Regions from separate parts of the Homo sapiens genome. Here regions 1, 3 and 4 are each linked to region 2. The links come from fine-mapping of genetic effects on gene expression. A gene starts in region 2. Each other region holds a variant in brackets. All regions are shown on one strand. Distances are from middle to middle. Region 1 overlaps TCF20 (transcription factor 20). Region 2 holds the start of CYP2D6 (cytochrome P450 family 2 subfamily D member 6 (gene/pseudogene)). Region 3 holds the start of PHETA2 (PH domain containing endocytic trafficking adaptor 2). Region 4 overlaps DESI1 (desumoylating isopeptidase 1).

Evidence for each region. PIP is the estimated chance that this variant, and not a neighbour inherited with it, causes the effect.
Region 1: its variant is fine-mapped to the expression of CYP2D6 in whole blood (INTERVAL, PIP 0.96).
Region 3: its variant is fine-mapped to the expression of CYP2D6 in whole blood (TOPMed, PIP above 0.99).
Region 4: its variant is fine-mapped to the expression of CYP2D6 in whole blood (TOPMed, PIP 0.98).

Annotation. Positions count from the first base shown.
Region 1 is chr22:42,217,862-42,225,963 of GRCh38, forward strand. The region is part of intron 1 of TCF20 (transcription factor 20); the gene reads right to left. Among named protein-coding and RNA genes, the nearest start is that of TCF20, 49 kb to the right of the region's middle. RefSeq lists an enhancer at 1-480. The variant C/T (reference allele first, on the strand shown) is at 3,485.
Region 2 is chr22:42,126,736-42,134,829 of GRCh38, forward strand. CYP2D6 (cytochrome P450 family 2 subfamily D member 6 (gene/pseudogene)) reads right to left here and starts at 4,075. Exons shown (of 9, transcript NM_000106.6): 1 at 3,877-4,075; 2 at 3,003-3,174; 3 at 2,298-2,450; 4 at 2,049-2,209; 5 at 1,439-1,615; 6 at 1,107-1,248; 7 at 712-899; 8 at 116-257; 9 at 1-17. The coding sequence starts at 4,056. RefSeq lists promoters at 4,081-4,547, 4,134-5,666 and a cis regulatory region at 5,360-5,371.
Region 3 is chr22:42,071,204-42,079,305 of GRCh38, forward strand. PHETA2 (PH domain containing endocytic trafficking adaptor 2) reads left to right here and starts at 3,045. Exons shown (of 3, transcript NM_001002034.3): 1 at 3,045-3,138; 2 at 4,368-4,449; 3 at 6,077-8,102. The coding sequence starts at 6,091. The coding sequence ends at 6,870. It also overlaps the pseudogene SNORD13P1. RefSeq lists enhancers at 2,365-3,097, 3,098-3,828, 6,439-7,001 and silencers at 3,183-3,562, 3,802-4,096, 7,922-8,102. The variant C/A (reference allele first, on the strand shown) is at 4,531.
Region 4 is chr22:41,610,639-41,618,740 of GRCh38, forward strand. The region is part of intron 1 of DESI1 (desumoylating isopeptidase 1); the gene reads right to left. Among named protein-coding and RNA genes, the nearest start is that of DESI1, 6.4 kb to the right of the region's middle. The variant C/T (reference allele first, on the strand shown) is at 3,421.

The DNA of each region.
Region 1 (8,102 bases), 91 kb after region 2:
TAAAAGCTTGACCCATATCTTGAAATATCGTAAGTCTAAAACAGCTAGACAAGGGTCTACTTCCTTAAGCTTGATTATATAGTCATGTGACCCAAAACAATCGCTAAACATTCATGTGCAAATAATGTCAGAATCTAAAGGAAACTTCTCATCCTATTCAAAATGCCTCTGTTGCTTTGTTCCAGTGAATCTGCAGGGCAGTAGGTAATAGCTATTCAAATGGTGATGATGCTGCTTGACACTGTTCCAGCACTTCACATACACTAACTCATTTAATCCTCACAACACTAGCACGCTCCTTTTACAGATGAGGAAACAGAAGCAGAGTTCACAAAGCTCCTAGGCAGCAGGGCTGGGGGCAGGACATGTTTTTAACATTACATTGCCCAGAGGGTCTTCCACATGGTCAGTAAAAAATACCAGTTGTCCTGTCAGTTTGGCCTTGAAAGTGGGTAGCCACCCACAATAAATCTGTCCCTTCACTGCCACCCTCTTATAAGGACCTCCATACTGTTCCAGCTGGCTCTTCACCCGCTCCCCATCATTCTTAGAACTATCAAGAGCAATTCTGTCTACATGAGTATTAATTTTTTCCCCTTGTGATGTGCTCCTGCTCTACTCCTCAGTGCCAGTGGCCTTCTCTAGATAAAACAAGGCTGAATGGGGGCTAAATTGAACAAAAACATTAAAGCTAGCAGTTTAAACTAATGAAAAGCCTTCTCAAGAGATATTCTCTATAAAAAGCTATGTTACATGTTGTTTAATTAATCCTTCTGGAAATAAAATCAGGCTTCTGAAGATCTGAGTGTATAAACAATGTTGCCACTTGCTCCATATTCTTCCTAAATAGGAGCCACCAAGAGCTAAAGGCCACTTTAAACATCAGGGTATCAGGCCTGAGGCTGCCCTATCTCCAGACAGGGAAAACAGATACAGGAAGGACTCCTTCTTAGGTCTGTTCTCAGCCTTCCCCTGCAGATTCCCTGTCCTGTATGATACCCCTTTCCCTATTGTTATGGTTCTACTTTATGAAAAAGAAAAAAAAAAAATCCAAGGCCAAATACCTCCTGCAGGGTTCCAGTCATGCTAAATATTCTTAGTATACATGAAGCACCTGAGTAGGAGAAGGTGGTTGCCCAGGTTTATCTTTTTTAGGAATGCCAAGTAAACCAATTAAGAAAACCAACTAGCATATACCAACGACAGAAAATGTAAACCTGGAGCTATAAAATAAGTAATAGGCTGGGTGTGGTGGCTCACACCTGTAATCCCAGTGTTTTGGGAGGCTGAGGTGTGAGGATCGCTTGAGGTCAGGAGTTCAAGACCAGCCTGGGTTAAAAAAAATTTTAAATGCACAGTGTCATGAGGTGTGCCTACAGTCCCAGCTGCTCAAGAGGCTGAGGTAGGACGATTGCTTGAACTCAGGAGTTCGAGGCTGCAACGAGCTATGAATGTGCCAATGTGCTCCACCCTGGGTGACAGTAACCCTGTCTCAAAAAAAAAAAAAAAAAAAAAAAAAAGCTAATAGAGATAATTCCAATTTTATCCCATCATCTTAAAAAAAGCATCAGTGTAGTCAGTTTTAAAGCACTGTGATTAGTAATAATAAGTGCCTGAATTCCTTTGTTTAAATGAATACAAATAGTAAGGAAAATCTGATACCTCAAAGGAATAAGTCACCTAAGGAACTTGCATACACACTCTAAAAAAGAGGCTGGGCACAGTGGCTCACCCCTGTAATCCCTGAACTTTGGGAGGTCAAGGCGGGCAGATCACTTGGGCTCAGGAGTTCGAGACCAGCCTGGGCAACATGGCGAAACCCTATCTTTATAAAAAATACAAAAATTAGCCAGGCATGGTGATGCGTGCCTGTAGTCCCAGCACCTCGGGGGGCTGAGGCAGGAGGATCGCCTGAGCCTCGGAGGCAGAGGTTGCAGTGAGCAGAGATCGCGCCACTGCCCTCCAGCCTGGGCAACAAAGCGAGATTCCGTCTCAATAAATAAATAAAAAAGAGGCCTACCGATGTACTTCCCATCCATAATGACTCTCCCTTTCCTGTTTTTCTCCTATATTCCTAACTTTCTGAACAGTTTCAGAAGGGCTGTGGAGGTGTATTAGTGAGGTCCAGAACTCTGTGCCTAAACATTCCAGAGTCCATGTGCCGACCTCACAAACTCACTCATAACCAGCTGCAGACTTGTTCTCCCCATCCTATTAGAGGGCTGATGACCTTGCCCTCTTATAGAAAACCAACATTGGCTTTCTCTGTCCTTCTTCCTCCATATGTCCAACAACATCCCACTTCCCAATCCATTCTCTTTTTTGGAAAGAGAGTCTCACTCTGTTGCCCAGGCTGGAGTGCAGTGGCATGACCACAGGCTCACTGCGGCCTCAACTCCCAGCTCAGGCAATCCTCCTGCCTCAGCCTCCCAAGTAGCTGGGACCACAGGCATGGGACCCCTGGCTAATTTTTAAAAAATAATTGGGACTATGGCTAATTTTTATAATTTCTTAAAAATAGAGACAGAGTCTCACTGTGCTGTCCAGGCTGGTCTCAAACTCCTGGGCTCAAGCCATCCTGCTGTTTCAACCTCCCAAAGTGCTAGAATTCAGCCATTGTGCCTGGCCCCAGCTAATTTTTTCATCCTCTGTCATGATTTTCTGCTTATTCTCCTTCTTTGCCTTTAAATCCTCAAGACATTGACAATGATGCATCTAGTTATAGCCTGTGTAAGGGATATTCCCTGTTTGCCCCCACAGCCTCTCCTCACCCATCTCCACCCTACTCTATGCCCTAGAACGGACAATGGAAGGACAACTGACAGGCCCCACCACCCTTGCCTTCTGACCCAGTTTGGCTGGTAAGAGGCAGGAGAGGAGGAAAGTGAGAGGAACTTACTCTCCTGGCTCCCACCCCGAGGTTACTGAGGCTGGCTGAGACCCTCCACCAATGGCTGCAGCTCCATCGGGCAACCTCAACATATAGCCACTTTCTCCAAACTCCAGGAACCACTTCATCCTCTGCCCTTCAGGTCTAGAAGGCAGTAGGTAACAACTCCCTGCTACTGCTAGCACAGAAGACTTCACTTTCCTGTTGGCTTCCCCAAACCCTGCTCACCCTTTCCAGTCCCTTTATTAATCTTCTGCATTGTTGTCAACTCAGCATCGTGACCACCCTCCTTCCAAGCTCTCCTCTGCAGATCAGAAGCTGAGAACTTCCGTTCCAGAACCCTTTAGCAGCATGGTTCTGGGTTAGAGTTTGCAATGAGAAGTGCAAGAGAGATTTAGAAGGCAAAATAAACGTAGAGGTTGATGATATTCCCTGGAGGTAGATGCAGCACACGTGGATTCATAGCGGCTTCCCCATGAGCTCACGAGAACCATTCACTATGACACTTCAGTATGAAATCATCAGGAACCTTCCCAATTCCAGTTCTTCCAGGGTTGGGTAAAGCCTTAATTCCTGTATCAAAACCATTCATAC[C/T]GGAATAGACAACTTCTCTTTTCCTGAATGAACCCTGAATGATACAATTAAACACTCCTTAAATTACCCAGTTTGAATGTGCCATCTGTTTTCTACTGGGACCCTGACTGATAAGAGTTCTTCTCATTCCTAGGATTTCAGAGTAGACTATTGCCACTTGGGGAATGAGAGACTTCTATTTCATGCACTATGACATAGAACAGGGACTAAAAATCCTCCCTCAACAAAACACTTAGAAATGTCAGACAAAATGTATAGCCAAGTTGCAAGAAAGTAAGAAATGCCCAAAGTCCAAAATTGGATGAGATACTATGAAGAGAGTTGCAGGCAGGTGCTGGGCTCTGAATGCCAAGGATGTGGGGTCTATAGGGCTTATTAACCATATGGCAAAGGGTTTTTTTTTTTTTTTTTGAGACGGAGTCTCGTTCTGTTGCCCAGGCTGGAGTGCAGTGGCGATATCTCGGCTCACTGCAAGCTCCGCCTCCCGGGTTCACGTCATTCTCCTGCCTCAGCCTCCCAAGTAGCTGGGACTACAGGCGCCCACCACCGTGCCTGGCTGATTTTTTGTATTTTTAGTAGAGACAGGGTTTCACCGTGTTAGCCAGGATGGTCTCGATCTCCTGACCTCATGATCCGCCCGCCTCAGCCTCCCAAAGTGCTGGGATTACAGGCATGAGCCACCGCGCCCGGCCCCATATGGCAAAGGTTTTAATGACCATGCAGAGACAGAGCAAGGCCTCTGGCCCTCTAGACAGATCAGTACTTAAGGACTCTGGACAGTGTCACTTGTGACTGTAATCATTTCTAAAAGACAACAAATGCATTTATTATTAGGCAGTAACTAACTCATTTTCAATGACAAAGATAAGGTTGTTCTTCCTCAACTGACCCAACTGCCTATTCTCAAAGAAAACCATGATCATCCCAAGCAAGAAGCTTTAGAATAACCCCAAACTGACCTTTCACTTTGACTCTGTATTTACCATGCTACCTCATCATGACACTACTCTCCTTCCTGTATTTGTCCTTTCCCATTCCATTCTCGTCACTGTCATTTTCATCTTTCTTGGGCTAGAATAACACCTGAAAAGTTCTCTTTCCCAGTACTTTCTTTTGCTTAACTGCCATTTTGACACCATCACACCCCCCCATAGGCCCTGAAGCCCTGTGACATCTTCCCAACACAATTTCTGCTTCTCCCCACCCTCTCAAACAAGCCTGCTCAGCCCCCTTTGTGCCATCGGCCCACTCTCACCTTGGTCTCAACTTGGAGCCTTTTAAGCATCCCCAGGCCCATAAATTCCTTCTTGCCACATGAGATCATATGGTTCTTAAGAGCTCTTAGAATGTGTCCTGCTGTATCTTAAGAGCTCCTAAAATGTGTTATCCATGTGATTTTCTCTACAAATCTTCCTCTAAGCAGAGAATGTGTTGGCTTTACCTTGCTTAGTAAAAACAAACCAATTAAAGTATTTACCTTTAACCAGTATCTAAGGTATGTACCACTGATATAATAAAAATTGCTGGCCGGCCACAGTGGCTCACACCTGTAATCCCAGCACTTTGGGAGGCCGAGGCAGGCAGACTGTTTGAGCTCAGGAGACCAGCATGGGCAACATAACAAGACCCCGTCTCCACAAAAAATACAAAAGAATTAGCTGGGTGTGCTGGCTTGTGCCTGTAGTCCCAGCCACTCCAGAGGCTGAGGCAGGAGGATCACTTGAGCCTGGGAGGCAGAGGTTGCAGTGAGCCGAGGCTGCACGCTACTACACTCCAGCCTGGGTGCTACAGTAAGACCTGTCCCAGTAAATAAATAAATAATTGCCATTTATTTAGCAATCTATATATGTTAGTCACTGTGTGGTTTTACCTGTAACTCAATTAATGAATGAGGGGGAAAAATTAATGTAATTTTTTCCAAAAGTCCAAATTTTCCAAAAGTCACTCCTCTAGGACAAGTTGGAGCTGACATTCTGTAACTCCAATTCTTCTGATTCTAGAGCCCATAACCCTTTCTTTCACTGTACCACAAAATTAGGCAAGGAAGATCCAAATGCATATTTTTGAAAATCCTGACACACACTTGGGTCAGATCTCTAATAACTGTAGCTATCAATTATTGCCATGCCTCACACATGTGACACACTATCAGGTGCTTTACACAAATGTTAATGCATTTCATCCTTACCATGATCTAAGAAATGTTAGTAATCCTTTTTGTAAATGGAGACTCAGAAGTTAAACAAGCAAAATATTCATGGTAAACAATGAGATAAGATATATAATATGCCCACTGCAAAACCCAGTCTGTATTTCCCAATCTGTGACATTGGGAAGCATTTTAGAAAGGAATCTTGAGGAATCTTGCTAGAATTTAGTTGACTGCTTGTACCTAGATATATCTGTAACACCTGTATCGTTTGTTTTGTGTATGTGCAAATGTGGGATCTTCCTAAGTGTATCAAGCATAAAGATCTGCTCAGTGACTTAATATTTCATACTCTATGTCCTGTTTGCACATGGGCAGAGCCTATATTTTTCTCAGTGGCTAAAAGTTATCTTAGTGTAATAGGACTTCAGAATAAAATGAAGTGTAATGAAGGTGCTGGCTTCCTCCCTGACTTGGGAGATCAGAAGAGTCTGAAAGCAACTCAGAATTCGCAAGTCAGTTCCTTGTCTAGAAGGAAAGAAACCCACAAGAATGCTGCATATCTAAAAAGATTGCTTTCTGGGTGTCAAAACTCATATTAGCCATGTAAGCCATAAAAAATATCCACCTTGAATCATGACCAAATACATGCAGGCAAAAACTAGGGGGATAAATTTGTAACTATTACATTTCCTGGCCAGGCGCAGTGGCTCACGCCTGTAATACCAGCACTTTGGGAGGCCGAGGTGGGCGGATAACGAGGTCAGGAGATTGAGACCATCCTGGCTAACACAGTGAAACCCCGTCTCTACTAAAAATACAAAAAAATTAGTCGGGCGTGGTGGTAGGCACCTGTAGTCCCAGCTACTCAGGAGGCTGAGGCAGGAGAATGGCGTGAACCTGGGAGGCAGAGATTGCAGTGAGATCGCACCACTGCACTCCAGCCTGGGCAACAAGCGAGACTCTGTCTCAAAAAAAAAATTTCCTAAAAAATTTAAAAGATGATATCCCATCTGGTTAGGTTAGGCTAAAGCTGGTACAAAAAAAAAAAAAAAAAAAAAAAAAAAGCACCATAAATGATTATGACTCTTGGAAAAGAAAACTGGTAATAAAACAGTCAACCAAACAAAAAAACAAAATACCAACATATTCACTCCAGTAATATGTATTAGAAGAAAAAACTGGCAACAACCTATTTGAAAATTGATTAAACAAATTATGGTATATCCACTCAAAGAAATAGTACATAATCATTTTAAACAATTGCAAAGACTCTAGCACCATAGAAAATTACATAGTATCAGATGAAAAGAGCAGCTCACGTAAACTTATACCTGTGCTATGATTATAACTATCTGAAAATGAGGCATTCATTTAGTCCCAGGCCAAAGGGAATAATGGAGAAAAAAGGAAAACTTCTGGACTATCCAAGATGGCAGTGTTGTGGAAGTATTTTTTCCCCTTTTCATTTCTATTTACATTAATTTTTGTGTAGGAAATAATCACTTTTTTTTTTTTTTTTTGAGACAGAGTCTTACACTGCACTGCTGGAGTGCAGTGGTGCAATCTTGGCTCACTGTAGCCTCTGCCTCCCAGGTTCAAGCAATTCTCCTGCCTCAGCCTCCCAAGTAGCTGAGATTACAGGTGCCTGCCACCACGTCCGGCTAATTTTTGTATTTTTAGTAGAGACAGCATTTCGCCATGTTGGCCAGGCTGGTCTTGAACTCCTGACCTCAAGTGATCCACCTGTCTTGGCTTCCCAAAGTGCTGCGATTACAGGGTGAGCCACAGTGCTCAGCCAAAATGTCATTAACCTCATTTAAAAATTACAACCCTTAGGCCGGGCGCGGTGGCTCACACCTGTAATCCCAGCACTTTGGGAGGCCGAGGCGGGTGGATCATGAGGTCAGGAGATCGAGACCATCCTGGCTAACAAGGTGAAACCCCGTCTCTACTAAAAATACAAAAAATTAGCCGGGCGCGGTGGCGGGCGCCTGTAGTCCCAGCTACTCGGGAGGCTGAGGCAGGAGAATGGCGTGAACCCGGGAGGCGGAGCTTGCAGTGAGCCGAGATTGCGCCACTGCAGTCCGCAGTCCGGCCTGGGCGACAGAGCGAGACTCCGTCTCAAAAAAAAAAAAAAAAAAAAAATTACAACCCTTGAACTATCTCAACAGTATCAGAGCTTTATCTGTTCCTACTGACAGCAAAGTGCTGCTCTGCCCAAGGGAAAGAAATAGAGGCACAGGGGACCCCACAAGTCAGAAGCAGGAGGGAAGGGAGGAGCCTGCCAGACAGGACCTCTACTTCAGGAAACCTGGTGCCAATGCCACACACAGGGTTGTTGGACACCACAGTGCCCAGGCAAGTGTGCACACAGGGTCACTAGCTCAAAATTATTTTTTGAGAATCAGGCCTAAAGTCAGCTGAATTCCAACCCACAGTCGGCAGGCCTATTATTAGGCATAATTT
Region 2 (8,094 bases):
GAGGCATGCACGGCGGCCTGTGGGGAGGGGAGGGGCGTCAGTGAGCCTGGCTCCTGGGTGATACCCCTGCAAGACTCCACGGAAGGGGACAGGGAGCCGGGCTCCCCACAGGCACCTGCTGAGAAAGGCAGGAAGGCCTCCGGCTTCACAAAGTGGCCCTGGGCATCCAGGAAGTGTTCGGGGTGGAAGCGGAAGGGCTTCTCCCAGACGGCCTCATCCTTCAGCACCGATGACAGGTTGGTGATGAGTGTCGTTCCCTGGGCAGGAGATGCAGGGTGAGAGTGGGGACTGGACTCTAGGATGCTGGGACCCCTGCCACCAAACACACGGGGGACACACACTGCCTGGCACACAGCTGGACTCTGTCAACTAGTCCTGCGCCCGAGAAGCTCCACAGTACCCTCTCCGACCCCACAGCAGGGCGCAGTCACACCTCTCAGAGGCACCCACACTGCCCCCTCTCCCTGCAGGCGTTGGGTCCTCCAACATTCTGGCAGGTCCTGGTTTGTCTCCCCACTAGACGGGGGCTCTGGATGGACAGGCCAGCCCTGCCTATACTCTGGACCCCCCACCCAAGTGGGGACAGTCAGTGTGGTGGCATTGAGGACTAGGTGGCCAGGGTTCCTAGAGTGGGCCCACCTGGCAGTAGCCATGCTGGGGCTATCACCAGGTGCTGGTGCTGAGCTGGGGTGAGGAGGGCGCCAGGCCTACCTTAGGGATGCGGAAGCCCTGTACTTCGATGTCACGGGATGTCATATGGGTCACACCCAGGGGGACGATGTCCCCAAAGCGCTGCACCTCATGAATCACGGCAGTGGTGTAGGGCATGTGAGCCTGGTCACCCATCTCTGGTCGCCGCACCTGCCCTATCACGTCGTCGATCTCCTGTTGGACACGGCCTGGACAGACATGCGTCCCCACAATGGGTCAGCACCCAGGGGGTCCGGCCCTGACACTCCTTCTTGCCTCCTATGTTGGAGGAGGTCAGGCTTACAGGATCCTGGTCAAGCCTGTGCTTGGAGCCCCGGGTGTCCCAGCAAAGTTCATGGGCCCCCGCCTGTACCCTTCCTCCCTCGGCCCCTGCACTGTTTCCCAGATGGGCTCACGCTGCACATCCGGATGTAGGATCATGAGCAGGAGGCCCCAGGCCAGCGTGGTCGAGGTGGTCACCATCCCGGCAGAGAACAGGTCAGCCACCACTATGCGCAGGTTCTCATCATTGAAGCTGCTCTCAGGGTTCCCCTTGGCCTGAGCAGGGCCGAGAGCATACTCGGGACAGAACGGGGTAGCCCCCAAATGACCTCCAATTCTGCACCTGTCAGCCCAGATGCGGCTCGCCGGGTGATGCACTGGTCCAACCTTTTGCCCAGCCTCCCCTCATTCCTCCTGGGACGCTCAACCCACCACCCTTGCCCCCCACCGTGGCAGCCACTCTCACCTTCTCCATCTCTGCCAGGAAGGCCTCAGTCAGGTCTCGGGGGGGCTGGGCTGGGTCCCAGGTCATCCTGTGCTCAGTTAGCAGCTCATCCAGCTGGGTCAGGAAAGCCTTTTGGAAGCGTAGGACCTTGCCAGCCAGCGCTGGGATATGCAGGAGGACGGGGACAGCATTCAGCACCTACACCAGACAGAACGGGGTCTCAATCCCTCCTGTGCTCTGCGTTCACCTGGACAAGTCTCAGGCCCCAGCCATCTCCAGGTAGACCCAGGGCCTGCCTGTCCTTACCACTGACCTCACCAAGTCCCTCCCCAAGTGCCAGCCTCCACCCTCTCTCCTTGCCCAGAGGAGAAACCTAAAATCGAAATCTCTGACGTGGATAGGAGGTACAGAGTCCTTGGCCTCTCCTGGTGCCCCCTGACCCGGGCACACCTCTCCCACGACCATGTCTGAGATGTCCCCTCCTCCTCCAGGCCCTTCTTACAGTGGGGTCTCCTGGAATGTCCTTTCCCAAACCCATCTATGCAAATCCTGCTCTTCCGAGGCCCCAGTCCAGCCCCGGCACCTCTCGGGAGCTCGCCCTGCAGAGACTCCTCGGTCTCTCGCTCCGCACCTCGCGCAGAAAGCCCGACTCCTCCTTCAGTCCCTCCTGAGCTAGGTCCAGCAGCCTGAGGAAGCGAGGGTCGTCGTACTCGAAGCGGCGCCCGCAGGTGAGGGAGGCGATCACGTTGCTCACGGCTTTGTCCAAGAGACCGTTGGGGCGAAAGGGGCGTCCTGGGGGTGGGAGATGCGGGTAAGGGGTCGCCTTCCCCGTCCCCCGCCTTCCCAGTTCCCGCTTTGTGCCCTTCTGCCCATCACCCACCGGAGTGGTTGGCGAAGGCGGCACAAAGGCAGGCGGCCTCCTCGGTCACCCACTGCTCCAGCGACTTCTTGCCCAGGCCCAAGTTGCGCAAGGTGGACACGGAGAAGCGCCTCTGCTCGCGCCACGCGGGCCCATAGCGCGCCAGGAACACCCCTGGGGGTGGGACGGGCACGTGCGCGTGGCCATGAAGGCATTAGCCCCACCATCCACCACCCACTCCAACCCTATGCTCCCCCTGGTCTCCCGCAGTCCCTGGCTCTGTCCAGCTGGTCACAGGGCCCACTCTTTGTGCATCCACCTTGCTCCCTTGGCTGGGGCAGGGCTTTGCCCCACCTCGTCTCTGCCCACCCTGACCGCCTTTGCACTCAGGGAAGACCCCGCGGGCCCCGCGCCACCCACACTGAGCTTACAGCACAGGTGCGGTCCCCGCCCCCCACTTCGACACCGGATTCCAGCTGGGAAATGCGCCAGCCTCACCCATTGGGCTCCTGCCAGGTCTCGGCAGTGGCCCCGCCCACTCGTCACAAGCCCCGCCCTCGTCCCCATGCTCACACCTCCCTAGTGCAGGTGGTTTCTTGGCCCGCTGTCCCCACTCGCTGGCCTGTTTCATGTCCACGACCCCGCGCCCTCTCTGCCCAGCTCGGACTACGGTCATCACCCACCCGGGTCCCACGGAAATCTGTCTCTGTCCCCACCGCTGCTTGCCTTGGGAACGCGGCCCGAAACCCAGGATCTGGGTGATGGGCACAGGCGGGCGGTCGGCGGTGTCCTCGCCGTGGGTCACCAGCGCCTCGCGCACGGCCGCCAGCCCATTGAGCACGACCACCGGCGTCCAGGCCAGCTGCAGGCTGAACACGTCCCCGAAGCGGCGCCGCAACTGCAGAGGGAGGGTCAGGGCCTCTTGTCAAGCCAGGATCACCCCAGACTACAGGTCCTAGTCCTATTTGAACCTTGGACGACCCCCGGGGCTACCAGGAGTGAGCAGGTGGAAGGAGGAGACCCAGCCTCCTGATCGTGGGGCGGGGGTGGGGGTCACACCTTCTGTGATGGAGGAACTCAGTTTGGATGCGTCACCCAGGTATGACCTTGCAAGAGTCACCAAAATTGCCGAGAGGCCCCAGTTAGCATCCCATTCCCAGATGATGGTCCATGCCGGTGAGCAGTGAGGCCCGAGGACCCACAGTGCAAAAGGTTTGAACCGGGTCACTGCACCCCCTTCATCCTCGATTTCGTGATTTAAACGGCACTCAGGACTAACTCATCTTCCATTCCCAAGGCCTTTCCTTCTGGTGTCAGCAGAAGGGACTTTGTACTCCATAACATATGTTGCCCAATGGGCTTGCATGCCCACTGCCAAGTCCAGCTCCACCTCCAGGCCCTTGCCCTACTCTTCCTTGGCCTTTGGAAAATCCAGTCCTTCATGCCATGTATAAATGCCCTTCTCCAGGACGTCCCCCAAACCTGCTTCCCCTTCTCAGCCTGGCTTCTGGTCCAGCCTGTGGTTTCACCCACCATCCATGTTTGCTTCTGGTAGGGGAGCCTCAGCACCTCTGCCGCCCTCCAGGACCTCCTCCCTCACCTGGTCGAAGCAGTATGGTGTGTTCTGGAAGTCCACATGCAGCAGGTTGCCCAGCCCGGGCAGTGGCAGGGGGCCTGGTGGGTAGCGTGCAGCCCAGCGTTGGCGCCGGTGCATCAGGTCCACCAGGAGCAGGAAGATGGCCACTATCACGGCCAGGGGCACCAGTGCTTCTAGCCCCATACCTGCCTCACTACCAAATGGGCTCCTCTGGACACACCTGGCACCCCCACCCCACCAGGCACAGAGGACCAGGCAGGACACTCTCAGCACACCGAGCGCGTGACCCTTCCCTTATAAAGGGAGCTGATGATGGCCTTTGCCCTCTGCTGTGAGTGAACCTGCTGTGTTGACTGTGCTGCCAGTGGCAGAGTCAGGCCAGGGCGGGTATGGGCTGCTCCAGAGGTTCTTGCCCCTGCTTCCTGCTCCAGGCCCTTACCCAGGGTAGGCCGGTGGAGGGGCCTGGTCGGAGAAGTCACCCCCTCTCCCCACTCCAAGCTCCTGAAGCCTGCAAAGCCTTCTGGGATAACCAGGGTTTCAGTGGACCCGGCCATCCACCTCCCAGCTAGGCTCATACACCCTAATGTAGTCACAACCCCTCCTCCAGAACATGGCCTTGCCCTTTCCCTACCCCCACCTGCCCACTCCAGAGTGACCTTCAGCACCCTTATCTGTCACTGGCACTTACCTGGGGCCTTAGAGCTCCTGATGATGAGTGGCATCATGGGCCTGGTCCCTTCACTTCACCTTGCACTCTTGACATGCACAGACGCTATGCACACACCTGATGGTGCACAGATCTCTTGTCCACTCCCAGACACTTGTCCACTTGTTCACACTTGCAGGGACACGATTACACACGCAGAAAATCACCCACACAAAGACAATATTCACACATACACAGACTCACACTGACACTTAGGGCACACATTCTCTCTCACACACACCAGTCACACACACATACAGACCCGGCACCAAGTACCCCACTTCCCAGCCATGCCGGAGGTTTCCTGGATGGGACCACTCCTGTCCAGAGGCTGCTCCCAGCCCAGCCCACATTCCTGGGCTCTGGCCGGGCTATGGCTTCTTGTTTGCAACAGGGCTGTTCCCAGAGCTCCCAGTTGGTAGCCGGAAGGCCCTTGCCCCAGCCTGTGACAACATCCTCCCGGGCTGCCTGAGGGTCGTCCTCCTCCACTGCTTTCTGGCCTCCATGTTTCTGATTAGAAATCTGGTGGGAACGTTATGGAGGATCCTTTGTTCAGGATATGTTGCTTTATTTTTTTTTTCTTTAGACAGGGTCTCACTCTGTTGCCCAGGCCGGAGTGCAGTGGCAGGATCATGGCTCACTGCAGTCTCGACATCAAGTGGACCCCCTGCCTCCCAAGTAGCTGGGACTACAGGCACCACCCAGCCTAATTCTTTTTTTTTTTTTTTTTTTTTTGGAGACGGAGATTTCCTCTTGTTGCCCAGGCTGGTGGCTCCCCTCCATTGTGCAATGATGCAATCTCGGCTCACTACAACCTTCACCTCTAGGCTTCAAGCAATTCTCCTGCCTCAGCCTCCTAAGTAGCTGGGATTACAGGTGTGTGCCACCACGTCTAGCTTTTTGTATTTTCAGTAGAGATAGGGTTTCACCATGTTGGCCAGGCTAGTCTTGAACTCCTGACTTCAGGTGATCCACCCACCTCAGGCTCCCAAAGTGCTGGGATTATAGGCATGAGCCACCGCACCCAATCCCAGCTAATTTTGTATTTTTTGTAGAGACCGGGTTCTTCCAAGTTGTCCAGGCTGGTCTTGAATTCCTGGGGTGAAGCGATCCTCCCACCTGGGCCTCCCAAAGTGCTGGGATTACAGGCCTGAGCCACTGTGACTACCTGATACGTCTCTTCTCTCTTGCTGCTTTCAAAATCCTGTCTTTTGTGGGAGGGCAGCTGCCGAGCTCTGGACTTCTACGGGATCATCCACTGAGGACAGGAGGACCGGGCCCTCTACAGGTGGATTGTATGGCAGCTGCCATGCTTGGAGCCAGTGCTCACCGAGCACGTGGCGGCTGTGGAGCTGGACGCGGGGTTGATAAGTCCGCTGGGGGTGACGGGCTCATCCATGAGTGGTACTTGATGTGGCTGCAGAAGGCGGATGTGGTGGTGGCAGAAGTGACACAACTGTCCCTGGGTATAGGCTATGATCTGTGCCAGGCCACAGCCCTCAATAAGTGAATCCTGTGCCTGCTCCAGCCGCAGTCTGGTGGAGTGCTGTCGGCCATGATCTGGGAAGAGGCAGATGGCTCTGGGTTCCAGGTGTGGGACTACGGAGAGGGACAGGTGGAGGCCCTGCTGCATGGATAGGTTGAGGCTGATCCTCCCGAGCAGGTTGCCTCCCCTAACCCAACCATTGGACCTAATCCCATTTTATTAAATTCTTCTCATCCCAGACACTGCTCTAGTACCAGTCCTGGCTCTTTGCCCCAGGAGCAAATTAAAAGGTACATTTAAAATTCTAAAAAAAGAAAAATCTGTCTTTTGACAGTGATTATGATGATGCGTATGGCTGAAGATCTCTTTGAGTTTACCCTACTTGGAGTTTGATGAGCTTTTTGGATGTACAGATTAATATTTTTCATCAGATTTGGGAGGTTTTTCAGCCATTAATTCTTCAACTATTCCTTTACTCCTTTCTCCCTGTCTTCTTTCCTGGGACTCCCATTGCGTGTATGTCGGAAAGCTTGACGGCGTCTCCAGGTCTCTGGATCTCTGTGCATTGCTCTTCATGCTTGTTCCTGTTCCTCAGAGGGTACTACCTCAGGTGGCCTCTCTCCATAGTCACAGGCTCTTTCTTCCAATTGTTCCAATCTGCTCTTGGGCCCCTGGGATGAATTTTCATTTATTTTACCCTACAACTCCAGAATTTTTATTTGGTTCCTTTTTAAACTTTTTTTTTGTTTTTTGTTTTGTTTTGTTTTTTGGAGTATCGCTCTGTCACCCAGGCTGTAGTGCAGTGGTGCAATCTCGGCTCACTGCAATCTCTGCCTCTCGGGTTCAAGCGATTCTCCTGCCTCAGCCTCCCGAGTAGCTGGGATTACAGGCACGTGCCACCACGCCCGGCTAATTTTTGTATTTTAAGTAGAGACGGGGTTTCACCATGTTGGCCAGGCTGGTCTCAATCTCTTGACCTCATGATATGCCCGCCTCAGCCTCCCAAAGTGCTGGGATTATAGGCATGAGCCACCATGCCCAGCCCCTTTTTATAAGGTTCATCCCATTATTGATATTCTCTAATTGGTGAGACATTGTTCCCACACTTTCGTTAGTTCTTTTGACATGGTTCTTTTCTTTTTCTTGGGAGAGGGTCTCTCTGTCGCCCAAGCTGGAGTGCAGTGATGCAGTCATGGCTCACTGCAGCCTCAACTTCCTGGGCTGAAGTGATCCTCCTACCTCAGCATCCTGAGAGGCTGGGACCATAGGCAGCCAGCTAATTTTTTAAATTTTTTTGTAGAGATGGGGGTCTCACCACATTTCCCAAGCTGCTCTCAAACTCCTGGGCTCAAGCAATCCACGGGCCTCAGCTTCCCAGAGTGCTAGGATTATAGGTGTGAGCCACTGCACCAGGCCTACACGTGGTTTCTCCCTTTGAAGTACTAGCCAGGCCTGACCATGCTTAGCTTCCGAGATCAGCAGGTTCCAGCCGGTGCAGCCTCAGATGCAGCATGTTTTAGGTCTTTGAACATATTTAAATGAGCTGACTGAACGTCTTTGTCTAGCAATTGCAGCATCGGGCTGGTCCCATTGGTGACTTTTCCCGTGTCTGGGTCGTCCTTTCGGTTTCCTTTCCATGTCTCATAATTTGTTAAAACCTGGACATTTCACGGGCGATAATGTGGCAACTCCGGAAGTCAGATTCTCTTCCCTGCCAAGGATGTGTTGTTGTTGTTGCCTGTTGGAGCTGTTTCTTTGCTGGGTGACTTTTCTGAACTAATTCTGACTAAGCATTAATGTCTCCATTCCCTGCGAGCTGTGGCCACTGAAGCCGCTCTTCAGTTACGGCAGTGGTCAGCTAATGACTGGTCAGAGAGTTCCTTAGGTGCCTGGAAGCGAAGTCTTTGCCGAGTGGGTCTCTCTCTGTGTGCCGGGCGTGGCTTCAGTGCTCGGCTAGGCAGTGCTCAACTTTCCCTTAGCCGTCACCTGCTGTCTGCACAGCACCTCAGGTCAGTCACGTGTGAGGGCT
Region 3 (8,102 bases), 56 kb before region 2:
TAATCGTCTCTACAAGGAGGGTGCGTGGGAGGCACCAAAGCAGGCGGTCACAGCTCCCGCAAAGGCAGCCGGCTCTCCTTCCCCGCCTGACGCTCAGGGACTACTCGCACAGACTGGGCTACTTCCTTCTTCATTCATTCATCAAGTATTTATTGAGAAACTGCTAAGTGCCAAATGCTTTGTTCTGGGCATTGTAGGGGCAGAAAGGTGTGATATTTTCCCTTACTCATCCCAAAGGTCACAGCGGACACTCCTACAAATAAAATATAGGTTAGCAAGAGAAAAGCATAATAGATTGATTTACTCAATGTTTTATGTGACTTGAGAGCCTTCAGGAATGAAGACACAAATACTCAGGGAAATCTTTATTTTTATGTCTCGGTTTGATGAAGAATGGACAGCCCTGGCCGGGTCTGGTGGCTCATGCCTGTAATCCCAGCACTTTGGAAGGCTGAGGCAGGGGGATCGCTTGAGGCCAGACATTTAAGGACAGTCTGGGCAACATAGTGAGACCCTGTCTCTACAAAAAATTAAAAAGCCAGGCAGGTGCCTGTGGTCCCAGCTACTCGGGAGGCTGAGGTGGGAGGATTGCTTGAGTCCAGGAGGTCGAGGTTGCAGTGAGCTGTGATTGTGTCACTGTACTCCAGCCCGGGCAACAGAAAAAAAAAAAAAGGAATAAGGAATGGACAACTGTGTATAAACGCGATTAGACAAAAGGGAATGATTTAATGTTAATAGCTGAGTGTGGAAACCCAGCAATGTCTGTTCAGATTCGGATTCTTCTTGTTCTCTCTGTGTGGCATTCCCTCCTGCTGGGAGGAGGGCAGGACCCCTTCTGGAATGAGAGTCTTATGACCTAGTATCAGGCAAGGTAGATCAGAGAATTCCTTTATGGCCAGGCCCGACACAGAAAGGTGGGGGATGTTTCCAGTAATATTTGTAGTTACTTTTTTTTCTTTTTTTTTTTCTTTTGAGACAGAGTCTCCCTCTGTCACCAGGCTGGAGTGCAGTGGCGCGATCTCTGCTCACTGCAACCTCCGCCGCCCAGGTTCAAGCGATTCTCCTGCCTCAGCCTCCCAAGTAGTTGGGACTACAGGCGCACGCCACCATGCCCAGCTAATTTTTGTATTTTTAGTAGAGATGGGGTTTCACCATGTTGGCCAGGATGGTCTTGATCTCTTGACCTCGTGATCCGCCCACCTCAGCCTCCCAAAGTGCTGGGATTACAGGCATGAGCCACTGTGCCCAGCCAATATTTGTAGTTGCTATAACTCACCTTAGGGAGGAGGATTTTTAGTTTCTATGGCCTGCCTTGCAGGAGAAAAACAGGAGAAAGAAGGGGGGCAGGAGAAGGTCAGAGAGATACTTTGCTTCTGAGGCTCTTCCAGTGTCCTTTGGTTCAAAGTACTCAGCATGCCCAAGTGCCATATTTTTAGGCATCGCTTTCTGAGCCCCAACAGCACCTTCACTCAGATGGCCACTGGGTGTCTCAAACATAACCCAGACCAAGCACCGGCCACTTTCCACATCTCAGATAATGACAACTCTCCTAGGTGCTCAAGCCAAAACTGTGCAGTCCTGCCTGCTCTTTCCCTCACTCCCCACATCCAACTCCTCAGCAAATCCTGTGTTCTCTACCTTCAACAGCCATTCTAATTCTGGCTGCCTCTCCCTCCCCGCTCTTGCCGCGTTTGTGACATCTCGCCTGGATAGTGGCAGCAGGCTCCTCACTGGTCTCCAGCCTCCACTGACATTGATTCTCACCACAGAAGCCAGAGTATGCCTTGAAATCGCTCAGGTCCCTCCTCACAGCCCTGTCTAGAGTAACAGCCCTCCCAGATTTACAGAGCCCCATCCCACCCCTTCTACCCCCACCTCCTACTGTCTGCCCCTCCCCAGGCCTCCCAGCCTCACTGGCCTTCTTGCAGGTCCTCAAGCACAACAGGCCTGAGGGCCACTGCGCTGACTGTTCCCTCTGCCTGGAATTGGCATGGCTGGCTCCCTCATTTCCTTCAAGTATTTGTCCAATGTTACTTTCTCAGTGAGGCCTACCCTGACCACTCTATTTGCAATTGCAACCTCCCTACTCCCACAATTTCCCATCTCCCTTACCCTCCTCTGTTTTTCCATGCCACTTATTATCTTCTAACACATTTATTATGGTGTACAGTATTAACTGAATAAAATTTAGTAGGGGAGACAGGCAATAAACAAGAAAATAAAAGCATGAGCATAGGAAAGTTTACTCTAGCAGTGAGTGCTCTGATGGAAATAACACCCCAGGGATGGGACAGAGACTGCAGGGCAGGTTGCTTTACAATGGTCCCAGAGGAGACCACTGAGCAGAGACTCAAATCTGTGTCCAGAGGCGTCCTGAGGAGTGGAGCTGCGGTTGGGGGTGGGAAGGAAGGCCATTCTAGGCTGCAGGAACTGCAAGGGCAAAGGCTCTGAGGCGGGAGCCAGGTTCATGGGCAGATGTTTGAGGACACCTCCGGCTTCCAGGGCCTTCCAGAAGTTCCAGTCTCTTGGGTTTGGTTGTGCATTCCTGCGACCTTCACCGCAGGCCTCCTCCTCCACCCACTAGTGCAGAGCCTGGGGGCTGCCGGTGGGTTTCAGGCCAGGGAAGCAGAAATGGGTAATTTCCAGAGGCAGAAATCAGCCGACCCCGGTGGCCCGGTGGGTGGCCAACAAAGCTTGGCTGGCCCTCGCGGGCTGTGTAGGAGCCCACCCTAGGGAGGTACCCAGAGACATCCCTGGTTTGGCTCTGCCGGGAAAGTGGGCCGAGCAGGGAGAGGGGGACCAGAGAGGAAGAGATGGACAGAGTTTTCCGGACGGTGGGCTGGGTCCGAGGCCCGCGGACCGTCCGAGGGGGGCCTCTGGGTTCGAGGCCGCCCGCACCGACCAGTGCTGTGGCTCGGGCAGTTCACCGCCCTCTCGGGCCTCAGTTTCCCGCCCTGGCAGACCTCGAGGCGGCCTCGGAGATCCCGGGCCTGGCGAATACTGGGCGGGGAGGGGCGTTAACTCCAGCCTCCCGGGCGGGGTCTCCCGGCTCCCGCGGCCACGTTGCAGCCCAGGCGGAGGCGCGGGATCTCGAGCTGGGATCGCCCTCTTGGGCTTCGGTGCGATCGGCGGCGGGAGGTGAGAGTGGGCCCGGCGGGCTCCGGGAGGAGGTGGCCCCAGGGAAGGTGTGGCCGCGGGGAAGTGGCGGCGAACAGCCCCGACGCGAGGACGGGGAAACCAAGGCGGCAGCCAGGGAGACCCTGACCGAGGTGACCTCTGTTTAGGGCGACAACCGGGTTGGGGCTCCCCGCAGTGGCCACTGGCCCGGCGGTCCCGCACCCCCAGCCCGCCTCTCCTCCAACAAAAGAATCCAGGAAGACGGTGGGGCGGGCGGGAGGCCCGGTGTGCGGTGGCCTGGCCCCCCTACTGGTGGAGAGGAGGGAGCGCCCTTCCCCAGACGCGGGGGAGGGGAGGGGTCATGGCCCCACGGGCTGCCCACCCCCTCCCTGTGCCCCAGTGCTGGGCCCAGGACCCCCAGTGAGGCCACTCCTCTGGCAAACATCTGTGATCTCTTCCCCCTTCCTGGGCCCCCCCTACTGGAATGGCGTCTCTCCCCATCCAGGGGCCTGGCTTGTTTTTCTCCATAACCCTTAGCATTACCGGTCCTTATGTTATCTCTTATTTCACTAATTATTCTTTCATTAATTTATTAGTATTTATTTTGTTTGCCTACAGTGTGTTTCCCCCTGTGGGAATGTAGGCTCCAGGAGGGCGGGAGACTTCGATTTGTCCACTGATGTATCCCCATTAATTCAACAGATCCCTCCTGAGGGCCTCTCTGAGCCCTGCACGGTGCTGGGTATTGGGGTTCTCCTGGGAACTTAGCTGAGCCCCACCCTAGACATTCTGGGGCTGGGAACAGTGCTGTAAACACATATGACATCGTCGTGGGATGAAGGAAACAAACCAGAAATGGGGGGGTCTACTGGTCAGGTGACCTTAGGTCAGGCCACCTTGGTGGTCAGGGCCACCTTAGATGATATGGTGATCATGGAAGGCCTCCCAGATTAGGTGACTTCAGTTAAAGCCAGGAAGTGCTAGAAGGGAAAAGCTAGGAACCATGAGGGCATGTGTAGCTCTGACCTGGACTCAGGCAGGGAGCTGGGGTCTGAAGAGTAAAGGTCAAGACAAGGGGACCCATCCCCTTAAGCTGCTCAGGGGTTCCTGGCTGGGTGGATGGGTGGGGGGATTCTCAGGGGTCAGGGAAGGCTTCCCGGTGGAGGCTGTGGTTTCATTAGGCCTCGAAGGTGGAGTAGGAGTTCTCATTCTTTGGGATAAGCTGACTGGGCTTGAGAATTGTTTTGCAGGTTCCCTGGGAACCAGGTGGTCGAAGGGCTGAGCTGTGTGGCCAGACAAGAGGTCCCTGCCCTCCCCCAGTGAGCCCTGCTGGTAAGTGGGTACAGTGTGAGGGATTTGGGAGACGAAGCTCTGCGTCTCATTGGCCATGTAACCTTGGGCAAGTTCCCCTCA[C/A]TGCGCTGGGCCTTGGTTTTCCATGAGTAAGGACAGCTGGACTAAGTGCCGTTCATGATGCTGGGGGCACCCACATTCAATGGCTGTGGTTAGCTCTTCTCAGCTGTACCCTGGGTTTGTGCCACACTCTTGTGTACAGAGTAGCTCCCCATCTGGCCCTGAAGGCTGCAGATTGAGACAGAAAAATAATGTTTTATCTGAGGAATTGGAGCCCCTTTAAATAATCAGGCCCAGACATACTGAAACGCAACAGCTGTCAAGTCTTACTCCTCCCTTGAGCTAAAGAATTATCTCTTTTTCTTTTTTTTTCTTTTCTTTTCTTCATGTCAGATCGGTAATGTGCCTACATGGTAACAAGGTTCGAGGGTGGCACAGCTCACACATGCATGTGAACACCCAATCATCACGCTCATGAACTACAAAAGGATCAAGAATTACCTCTTGAAGCCACTTGCTATGTGGCTCTAGAGTGACACCAAGTAGCCATAAAATGCTGTACACTGGACACCCTATAGTTCATACCCTATAGTTCAACAATGTATAGCCAATCACTAATCAATGTTATTTCTTTTTTTTTTTTTGAGATGGAGTTTCTCTCTTGTCACCCAGGTGGAGTGCAATGGCACAATCTTGGCTCACTGCAACCTCTGCCTCCTGGGATCAAGCAATTCTCCTGCCTCAGCCTCCCGAGTAGCTGGGATTACAGGCACCCACCACCGTGCCTGGCTAATTTTTGTATTTAGAGACGGGGTTTCACCATGTTGGCCAGGCTGGTCTCCAACTCCTGAGCTCAGGTGATCCACCCACCTCGGCCTCCCAAAGTGCTGGGATTACAGATGTGAGCCACCGCACCCCACCAATCAATGTTATTTCTATAAACCAAGGAGAATTCCTGCCAAACAACTTTGTCATCCTTGCCCCCTTCTGCCTATAAAAACCTGTAGGAAAGGCCCAACGCAGCACACCCCACGGCAACTTAGAAGTTTGTTCTGGGCAGTTATCCTTACTCTCGCTCAAGTAAACTCTTTAAAGTTATATTTGTGCCTCAGCTTCTGCCTGTAGGTCAATAAGATTCAACAGCTATATGCAAATAAGAGGCCAGTAGAGGCCCAGGAGGGTCATGGAAACCCTGGAAGCTTGGCCTCAGAGTTGGAGTTGAGAGGACCCCAGATGAGGGGATAGTTTAAGCACAGTGGTTTCGATGGGTCTGGGGTCCATTTCAGCTCAGCTGGGGCCTGTTTCTTTGGATTTTAGAAAGCCGTGCCCAGGTCCTGCCATGCCTCCTGTCTGATGCAATCTCGTTATTCTTTTCTCGAAGTCCGCCAGTGTCCAGTTTTTTTTGCATGATCCTCACGACATCCCTTTGAGAGAAAAGGAAGGAAAGACGAGCCCACTTCTCAGGAGACTTTAGGGACCTTAGGGACACAGCAAGCGAGTAGGAGTCCCAGGGCTGGGGTCCAGGTTGCCTCTGGAGCCGGTGCTGTTCCCCAGGAGGGCACGGAACCACCTCCCTCTCTGATCTGCTGCCATCTCTCTTGCCTCACAGTTCCCGTGGGAGCCATGAAGCTGAACGAGAGGAGTGTAGCCCACTATGCACTCAGCGACTCCCCAGCGGACCACATGGGCTTCCTGCGCACCTGGGGGGGCCCAGGGACCCCACCGACCCCCAGTGGCACTGGCCGAAGATGCTGGTTTGTCCTCAAGGGCAACCTGCTATTCTCCTTTGAGAGTCGCGAGGGCCGGGCCCCACTGAGCCTGGTGGTGCTGGAAGGCTGCACAGTGGAACTGGCCGAGGCTCCCGTGCCCGAGGAGTTTGCCTTTGCCATCTGCTTTGATGCCCCTGGAGTGCGCCCACACCTGCTGGCCGCAGAAGGGCCGGCGGCCCAGGAGGCCTGGGTGAAGGTGCTGTCCCGGGCAAGCTTTGGCTACATGCGCCTGGTGGTACGCGAGTTGGAGAGCCAGTTGCAGGACGCACGCCAGAGCCTGGCTTTGCAACGCCGCTCATCCTGGAAGTCTGTTGCCAGCCGCTGTAAGCCCCAGGCTCCTAACCACCGAGCTGCGGGCCTGGAGAATGGCCACTGCCTCTCCAAGGACAGCAGCCCTGTGGGCTTGGTTGAAGAAGCGGGCAGCAGGTCTGCAGGGTGGGGGTTGGCTGAGTGGGAGCTGCAGGGCCCTGCCAGCCTCCTCCTAGGCAAGGGGCAGAGCCCTGTGTCCCCTGAGACCTCCTGCTTCTCTACCCTGCATGACTGGTATGGCCAGGAGATCGTGGAGCTGCGGCAGTGTTGGCAGAAGAGGGCCCAGGGGAGCCACTCAAAATGTGAGGAACAGGATAGGCCCTAAGTCTGGGCCCTTTGAGTCAGGAAACCAGGGCCAGTTCTTTTTCAGGAGTTAAATGTTTACCCATTTCCAAGGTTGCGTTTTGGGAGGGGACATGGGTTCTCTCCTTCCTGCTATTTAGGCATTCTCCAGGTTCGAGATCCACCCGTGTGTCTGGAAGGGACTGCGGGACCATTCCTTCCATCCTCTTTATTTCCTGAGGTCCAGAGAAGGAAGGAGACTTAGCAGCCACAGAGCAAGACCCCAATCTCCTGACTGCACTGGCCTGACTGCCCCCTCCCAGGGGATGTTAATGAAATGAAGGAAGTGGGGAATGTCACCCGAGACTGTCACAGGCTTGCCATACCTTTGGCCTACACACCGGGCTCTAGAGCCATAATTTCCAACCTGGGGAGTCTCCTGTGCACTTAAATCCGAGGTAGGCTGCAGTATCGGCTTGAAGCTCTGACACTGTCAGAGAAAGTGGATTTATTGTGTCATAGGAGTTTCTGGGACCCAGCTCTTCCTGAGAGGGGTGGGAAGATTGGGGATGGGATCCTCACTCAGCAGTCTGGGTAGGGCCCTTTGAGGCAGAGGGTCTTCGGCCAGTGAAGAGAGATTTATTCTGCTCAGAGTGCTGGGGTCCCATCCTTTCTCCCTGGCTGCCCTGTTAACAGATGGTGCTGGACCTTGCCCCGGAAGGGGCTTGTAGCTTTTTTACGTCAACGAAATGCCCTCCTGTACTCTGTCTTCAGCAGCCAACTCCTGGAGCTGCCAAGTGAGGGGTTAAAGAAGAGGTGGGGAGGCAGTGTGGCTCCCTGGGAAAAGTCTGTTGCTTTGGTTCTCAGTCCTGGGTATTCTAGGAGCTTGGACACGGGATTGCGTTTCCTGTGCTAAAATTCTCTCTCCTGGCTGGGCTCCGGTAAACTGAAGCTGCTCGAGAAATCACCTGGGAACTCTCATAGCCGTTTGTCACCCAGGGTGTACTTGCCAGGACCTCTCCTTGCTACTCTTCCCAAAGTCGGGAGGCAAAGCGGCTGGGTCACCAGAGCCTGACCATACTGACGCTCCAGGGGGAAGACGCAGAGGCCGGGAAGAGACACCCCCTCCCAAACACATAAAACTTGCCCCTTCCTAGCCTCGGCTCCCCTCACTGGGGCCTTGGGCAGGACCGACCCGCATCCAACTAGGCCTAAGGGGTAGGCTCTGAGCCTCTTACCCCTAAGAGGCGGAGATGCGCCCAAGGCGGGCGCCCG
Region 4 (8,102 bases), 520 kb before region 2:
GGGCGTGGTGGATCACCTGAGGTCAGGAGTTTGAGATCAGCCTGGCCAACATGATGAAACCCCGTCTCTACTAAAAATACAAAAATTAGCTGGGCGTGGTGGCAGGCGCCTGTAATCCCAGCTACTTGGGAGGCTGAGGCAGAAGAATCACTTGAACCCAGGAGGCGGAGGTTGCGACGAGCTGAGATGGCGCCATTGTACTCCAGCCTGGGTGAAAAGAGCGAAACTCTGTCTCAAAAAAAAAAAAAAGACCACAAGTGGATAGAGGGATCCTAGCCAGGGGTTTCTGGGGATAGCACCCTAAAGAATGTGAGGCAGGTTCTGACCTTATCCAAACTGAGGTGAAATTTCACAGTGGTTGATGAGAACCAGACTGGATGCCAAAGGGGAGTGGTAATCCATTTAGGACGAGCATCTTCAAACCCTGGGTTCCACTGGGCTATAAGATACTAAATCTCCTCTTTCCTGTTTACTATATGTAAAATGGGGAGACTAACATTCCTTTTTTTGAGACAGAGTCTCACTCTATTGCCTAGGTTGGAGTGCAGTGGCACGATCTTGGCTCACTGCAACCTCCGCCTCCTGGGCTCAAGCAATTCTGGTGCCTCAGACTCCCAAGTACAGGCTGGGATTACAGGTGTGCGCCACCATGCCCAGCTAATTTCTGTATTTTTAGTAGAGATTGGGTTTCACCATGTTGCCCAGGCTGGTCTCGAACTCCTGACCTCAGGAGATCTGCCCTCCTCAGCCTCCCAAAGTACTGGGATTACAGGTGTGAGCCACTCTATGTGGCCTAACACTGCATTTTAAATAGAGCTGATGTGCCCTTCTGAACTGTCATTTATAAATCAGCTGTTTAAATGGCTGCAATTTGTTTATTTACGTGAAGACATTTAATAGTTCAGTGAAACTGGAGAAATTAAGGATACCTGCTTTCTCTTACCTGTTCCTTCTTTTTTTTTTTTTTTTTTTTTGAGACAGTCTCACTCTGTTGCCCAGGCTGGAGTACGATGGTGTGATCTTGGCTGACTGTAACCTCCGCCTCCCAGGTTCAAGTGATTCTCCTGCCTCAGCCTCCTAAGTAGCTGGGACTACAGGCGCTCACCACCACGCCTGGCTAATTTTTCTATTTTTAGTAGATATGGGGTTTCACCATGTTGGCCAGGCTGGTCTTAAACTCCTGACCTCGTGATCCGCCCGCCTCGGCCTCCCAAAGTGCTGGGATTACAGGCGTGAGCTACCGCGCCTGGCCCCTGTTCCTTTCAAATGAAGCTTTTCTCATTTACTTTGTGAGGAATGCTACGCTTACAAGGAGGAAGTACAATATAGTGAATAAGAACACAGGTTCTGGTGTAGACAGGTTGGGTGTGAATCCTACTGGCTTAAACGGTGAACTAATGGTTTATTGAGTGACTACTACCTTCCAGGCACTATCCTTGGCACTAAGGATACATCAGTAAACAAAAACCTCCTTCATGACACTTACTAGGTGGGGGGAGGGGACAGTCAATAATAATAATGATGATAATAAGTCATAACATGTTAGCAATAGTGAATGGTATAGAACGAACAAGAGTAGGTTAAGGGGGTCTGGGCGTAGTGGCTCACGCCTGTAATCCGAGCGCTTTGGGAGGCAGAGGCGGGCGGATCACCTGAGGTCAGGAGTTCGAGACCAGCCTGGCCAACATGGTGAAACCCCATCTCTACTAAAAGTACAAAAATTAGCCAGGCATGGTGGCACACACCTGTAATTCTAGCTACTCGGGAGGCTGAGACAGAAGAATCACTTGAACCCGGGAGGTGTTGCAGTGAGCTGCGATTGCACCACTGCACTCCAGCCTGGGCGACAAGAACAAAACTCTTGTCTCAAAAAAAGAAAAAAAAAAAAAAGAGTAGGTTAAGGGAGTTTCAGGGATGATCAGGGTGGGCCTCTTTGAGAATGTGATATTTGAGTGAAGATTTTTTTTTTTTTTTTGAGACAGGGTCTTGCTCTGCTACTCAGGGTGGAGTGCAGTAACGCGATCAAAGCTCACTGCAGCCTTGACCTCCCAGGCTCAAGTGATCCTCCCACTTCAGCTTCCCAGTTGCTGAGACTATATGTGTACCACCCAGGCCTACTTTTTTTTTTTTTTTTTTGAGACGGCGTCTCCCTATGTTGTCAAGCCTGGACTTGAACTACTGGGCTCAAGTGATCCTCCCACCTCCAGGCGTGAGCCACCAGGCCCAGCTTTGAGCCAAGATTTAAAGGAGGCAAGGGAAAGAGGGATGCAGGGGCAATGACATGCCAGGTTTATCTGAAGGCCTGTAAGGAGGCCAGTGAAGTTAGAATGGGTGAGGAGGGGAAGTAGAAGATGACCAGAGGTAATGGAGGACCAGATCACAGAGAACACTGCAGAGGCTGAGAACACTAAGCCTGAGCTGTCCAATATGGTGACCACTGACCACATGTGGCTATTTAAGTTAAATAAATGCACAAATTCAGTCCCTCAGTTCCACTAACCACATTTTAGGTATTCAATAGCCACATGTGACTAGTGTTTACTTACTGGACAGTGCAGATCTAGAACATTTCCATCACTGCAGAAAGTTCTATTGGACGCACTGTTTAAACTATAGTTTCCTATTCTGTAAAAAAAAGCATAATAACACTGCCTGCCTCATAACATTTCCAGGATTAAAAGAGACGATACATGACACATGCGTAGCACAGGGTCTGGGACATAATACATGCCCAATAAAGGCTAACTCATTTCTTCTAGGGTTTATAATTTGAAAGTTTTATAGTTGTTCTCATAGTACCCTGGTATTGAAACTATTCACGTGTCCTTCTCCCCAGTTAGACTACAGTTGCCTCAGTAACCAGGACAGTTTCTTATGTATCTTTATAACTCCAGCACCTAGCAAAGGACCTGGTCCTGAGATGTGACATGAACATCTGTTGAGATGAGCTGTTCTGTTTAGTTAGCTTTGTTGGTTGACACACAGTGCTATTGAGGACAAAGTTCCTAACCCCAATCTGGGCTGCCTGGCTTGTTATTGCAATGACTCTGCCACCCTGGCATACTGCACTCCCAGTCTACTGCTGTCTTCTCAGATGCGCATGCTCACTGACTCAGGAGTACAGCTGGCAGGTATGGATGTATCATCAGCTCAAACCCATTCCTACTAAACAGATTTTTGAAGAGGGGCCTCAGTTATTTCACACCTGAAAAACAACTCAAAAGTTGCAGGATACAAACCCTACTTTATTCTCCTTTATATCCTTTGTATCATCACTGAATTTGCCTGTAAGCTACACGCCACACTTCCTATTCAACTGCATCAAGGTACACTTAGGATCTCATCCATTCATAGAGTGGAGATAGGGACTATAGAAAAAAGATCCCCTTATTTATTCATTCTTTCTTTTTTTTTTTAAGA[C/T]GGAGTCTCGCTCTGTTGTCCAGGCTGGGGTGCAGCGGTGCAATCATGGCTCACTACAACCCCCGCCTCCCGGGTTCAAGCAATTCTCCTGCCTCAGCCTCCCGAGTAGCTGGGATTACAGGAGCTCGCCACCATGCCCGGCTAATTTTTTGTATTTTTAGTAGAGACGGGGTTTCTCCATGCTGGCCAGGCTGGTCTCAAACTCCTGACCTTGTGATCTACCCGCCTCGGTCTCCCAAAGTGCAGGGATTACAGGGGTTAACCACTGCACCCAGCCTGTTCATTCTTTCACTTATTCATTCATCCACCAAACACTTGGAGCCAACAATAACATTAAAAATGAATTGAGTGAATTTACATCCTTTCTTTTTTCCTTTTGAGACAGAGTCTCACTTTGTTTCCCAGGCTGGAGTGCAGTGGCGTGATCTCGGCTCACTGCAACCTCCGTCTCCGGGGTTCAAGTGATTCTTCTGCCTCAGCCTCCCAAGTAGCTGGGATTATAGGTGTGAGCTACTGTGCCCGGCCTACATCCTTTTTTTTTTTTGAGATGGAGTCTCACTCTATCACCCAGGCTGAAGTGCAGTGGCATGATCTCGGCTCACTGCAACCTCTGCCCTCCGAGTTCAAGCGATTCTCCTGCCTCAGCTTCCCGAGTAGCTGGGATTACAGGCATGCGCCACCGTGCCCAGTTAATTTTTGTATTTTTAGTAGAGATGGGGTTTCACTATCTTGGCCAGGCTGGTCTTAAACTCCTGACCTCAGGTGATCCACCCGCCTTGGCCTCCCAGAGTGCTGGGATTACAGGCATAAGCCACCTCACCCCACCTTGTTTTCTTCTTCTTTTTTTTTTTTTTAACAAAAAAGTTCCTTTTCACCTGTTTTCCACATGCATATCTGCAGAAGATTTCATTTCAAGGAAGAGTTTCACAGCTAAAGAGCATTTGAAAACCACTGGTCAGGCCACATGCAGTGGCTCACGCCTGTAATCCCAGCACTTTTGGAGGCTGAGGCGGGCGGATCACGAGGTCAGGAGATCAAGTCCATCCTGGCTAACATGGTGAAACCCCGTCTCTTCTAAAAAAAAATACAGGCCGGGCGCGGTGGCTCAAGCCTGTAATCCCAGCACTTCGGGAGGCCGAGGCGGGAGGATCACGAGGTCAGGAGATCGAGACCATCCCGGCTAACACGGTGAAACCCCGTCTCTACTAAAAATTAAAAAAAAAAAAAAAAAAAAAAAATTAGCCAGGCACGGTGGCGGGCGCCTGTAATCCCAGCTACTCAGCAGGCTGAGGCAGGAGAATGGCATGAACCTGGGAGGCACGCGCCACTGCACTCCAGCCTGGGCACACAACAAGACTCTGTCTCAAAAAAAAAAAGAAAATTTAAAAAAGCAGAATCACGCAGGGCCTTGTAAGCCATATTCCTTTCCATTTTGCCTTAAAGAAATTGAATGATTATTAAATTAATTCATTAGATGAGTATAAAACAGTTCACACAGTGAACAAAAATCAAAAACAAAGCACAATAGATGGCATTAAAACAGAAAAAACCTCTCTCAGATTTGAATAAATTTTACTTAATCTTCAAGCTTAAGTTCAAGTCTCAATCATTTCTATAATCAATACTTACTGAACACCTGCTCCAACAGGCCACTGGGGACATATAGGAAGGGGACAGAGTCCTTGCCCTCCAGGAGCTCCAGGCTCTTGCCAAAGCCTCTCTGACATGCTCAGCTCACCATGGCCTCTCTTATTTCAAAGCCTAACATAGTTCATGCACCACTCACTCACTTTGGCACCTAATCATAATCTGTTTTATATTGTTATCAAATGTTATATGTGTACATTCATTATTTAAAGGAAAATAATATTTTAAGAAAAACTCCTGGGCTGGGCATGGTGACTCATGCCTTACTTTGGGAGGGGGGTTTGTTCAGCATTTTGGGAAGCTAAGGTGGGTGGATCGCCTGAGATCAGGAGTTTGAGACCAGCCTGACCAACATGGTGGAACCCAGTCTCTATTAAAAATAGAAAAATTAGCTGGACATGGTGGCACATGTCTGTAATCCCAGCTCCTTGGGAGGCTGAGGCAGGAGAACTGCCTGAACCCAGGAGGCGGAGGTTGCAGTGAGCCGAGATCGTGTCATTACACTCCAGCCTGGGCAACAAGAGTGAAACTCTGCCTCAAAAAAAGAAAAATTCCTGGAGGACAGAGTTCACGTCATATCTTTTATTTCATTACTATTTGTACTACAAAATGAAGTAAAGAATTGAGTATAGTGTAAAATCTCTAATATTCATTAGAATTCATTCTGCCAAGCAATTTATATATTCTATGTCTCCAAATCTTTAAGTCTGAAAACAGTTTTGAAATGGGCTTGTAAAGAAAAATAAACGTGATGCATGTACACGAAACTTCTGATCAGAAAATAATAAACAAATATGAAGTACTTCTTACCACAATTAAAACACACACACACACACACACACACACACACACACACACACACTTCTGCATGTACTGTGGCACAAAAAGAGGTCAAGAAACTTAAAGAGCAGCCAAAATTATTAAGAGGAGGAACTGAAGGACACTTATAATAGCTAATTATTTTAGGCAATTGGTGACTATGAAAAAAGGTGCAATGAGGCTATCTGCTCAATTAGAATGCTGAAGATAATTTTGGGACCATTTTTCATAGTGAATGAAAAGCTATAGAACAGTAATGCCTTCACTTGAGGCAATTCCAGGAGGCTGAAAACAGGACAGGCTAAAACTACGGAATTTACATTGCTTCAGGAAAGGGGAATTACCTTGGGCTTTATCTAGTCTAATCCTGAACTGCGACAGAGCTAGATGAGGTCTCCCATTGGAGAACTGACATAACTGAAGCCTGAGAGGGTACTGCAGATGAGATCACATGGATTTAATTTGGGAAAATGGAGACTAAGAGGCATGATCATAAATCTAGATTGTAAGTGGCACATACACATTGAACCCAGCTTTTTTTCTCATCCAAACTTGAAACATTTGGCAAAGGATGCCTTTACAAACTTCAGGAAGGCATCTACTTTACTTCAATTTTAAAGGAACGTATTACACAGAGGTGGTATCTCAAAATGACAGAGAACGCGAGCTCTGGAAGTCAGACTGCCTGTGTTCATAACCCAGCTCTACCACCTAGTAGCTCTGGGACCTGGGGCAAATTCCTTAACACTCTACTTCTCAGGTTCTTCAATCAAGAAAATGGAGGCAATAACAGGACTTATCTCACAAAGTTGTGGTGAGGATTATAATGCACGCAAAGTACTCAGAAAAAAAGGGTCTGACACATGGTAAGCTCTCAATAAATAGTGGCTATTAATATACTTCTAGAATTCATCATAAAAATCAGGAAACAAATTGATTTTTTAAAGGTTCAAATGTATTTAGGAATGGGAAATCAATATATGGCTACTTATAGCACTGGGACATACCCAACTTCAAGATTTGTGTTGTCTGAATGGGATGAATCAGTAAGACCATGCCTATTTTCCTTAAGTGTTCAACTCTAGAAAGTAATGACTACTAGCTTTGCTAATTCTTTCTTCATTAATTTTGCAAAAGGTATAAAAGCAATATGGAAAAAAGAGGTAGAGAAGACAGAAGTAGATTAGCACACAAGGTGATTTCCTCAGATCAGAATCTGATGTGCCCAATGAATGGGTGATGTTCCCATGTTTGGCTGAGGCATTCCAGGACTTTACATCTATATAAAAGGGCGGGGAGTGGGAAGGGGGCAGGTCTATTACTCCATCTTCAGTTACAGCACTTTCCCCTTCACCCACTACACTCCACAAAAGCCTTCTTTCAGTTCCAGTATCAGGCCAGACTCTTTCCTGTCTCAGGGCTTTGGCAGGTTGATCTTTCTCCTACCTGGAACACTGTTACTCCCTTACTACCCTCCTGTGGCTACTTCTTCCTCATCCTAAATTCCCACTTTCAAAGTCACTACCCTTGATACCCTTATTTAAAATAGGTCTCTTCACTGGGTGCAGTGGCTCATGCCTGTAATCCTAGCACTTTGGGAGGCTGAGGCGGGCGGATCACTTGAGGTCAGGAGTTCAAGACCAGCCTGGCAAACATGGTGAAACCCTGTCTCTACTAAAAATATAAAAATCAGCCAGGTGTGGTGGCATGCGCCTGTAATCCCAGCTACTCTGGAGGCTGAGGCAGGAGAATCACTTGAACCTGGGAGGCAGAGGTTGCAGTGAGCTGAGATCACCCCACTGCACTCCAGCCTGGGCAACAGAGCAAGACTCGTCTAAAAAAAAAAAAAAGGTCTCTCTTGTTATTTTCTATCACAGCACCCAGTGTGCTTCCTGTGCAGAAGGCACTTATGCAATTTGTAACTAATTATTTATGTATTTATTTTTAATGTCTCCCCCATTAGATAGCTCCATGATGGCAAAGAACATCTTTGTTCATTATATCAACCTCATTTACCTTAACACGTTGACTAGCATAGAGCAGACGCTCAATAAACATCTGCTGAATGAATGAAATAATGACTCCTAAGGCTCCTTTCAGCTGCCCAATAATTATTAGGTAATAGGATAAAAAATACCCAGTGTAAAGGGGGAGGTTTTACGTGGGGTATAGGAAATATCTGATTCCTCACTATGATAAAAAAACAAACAACTAAA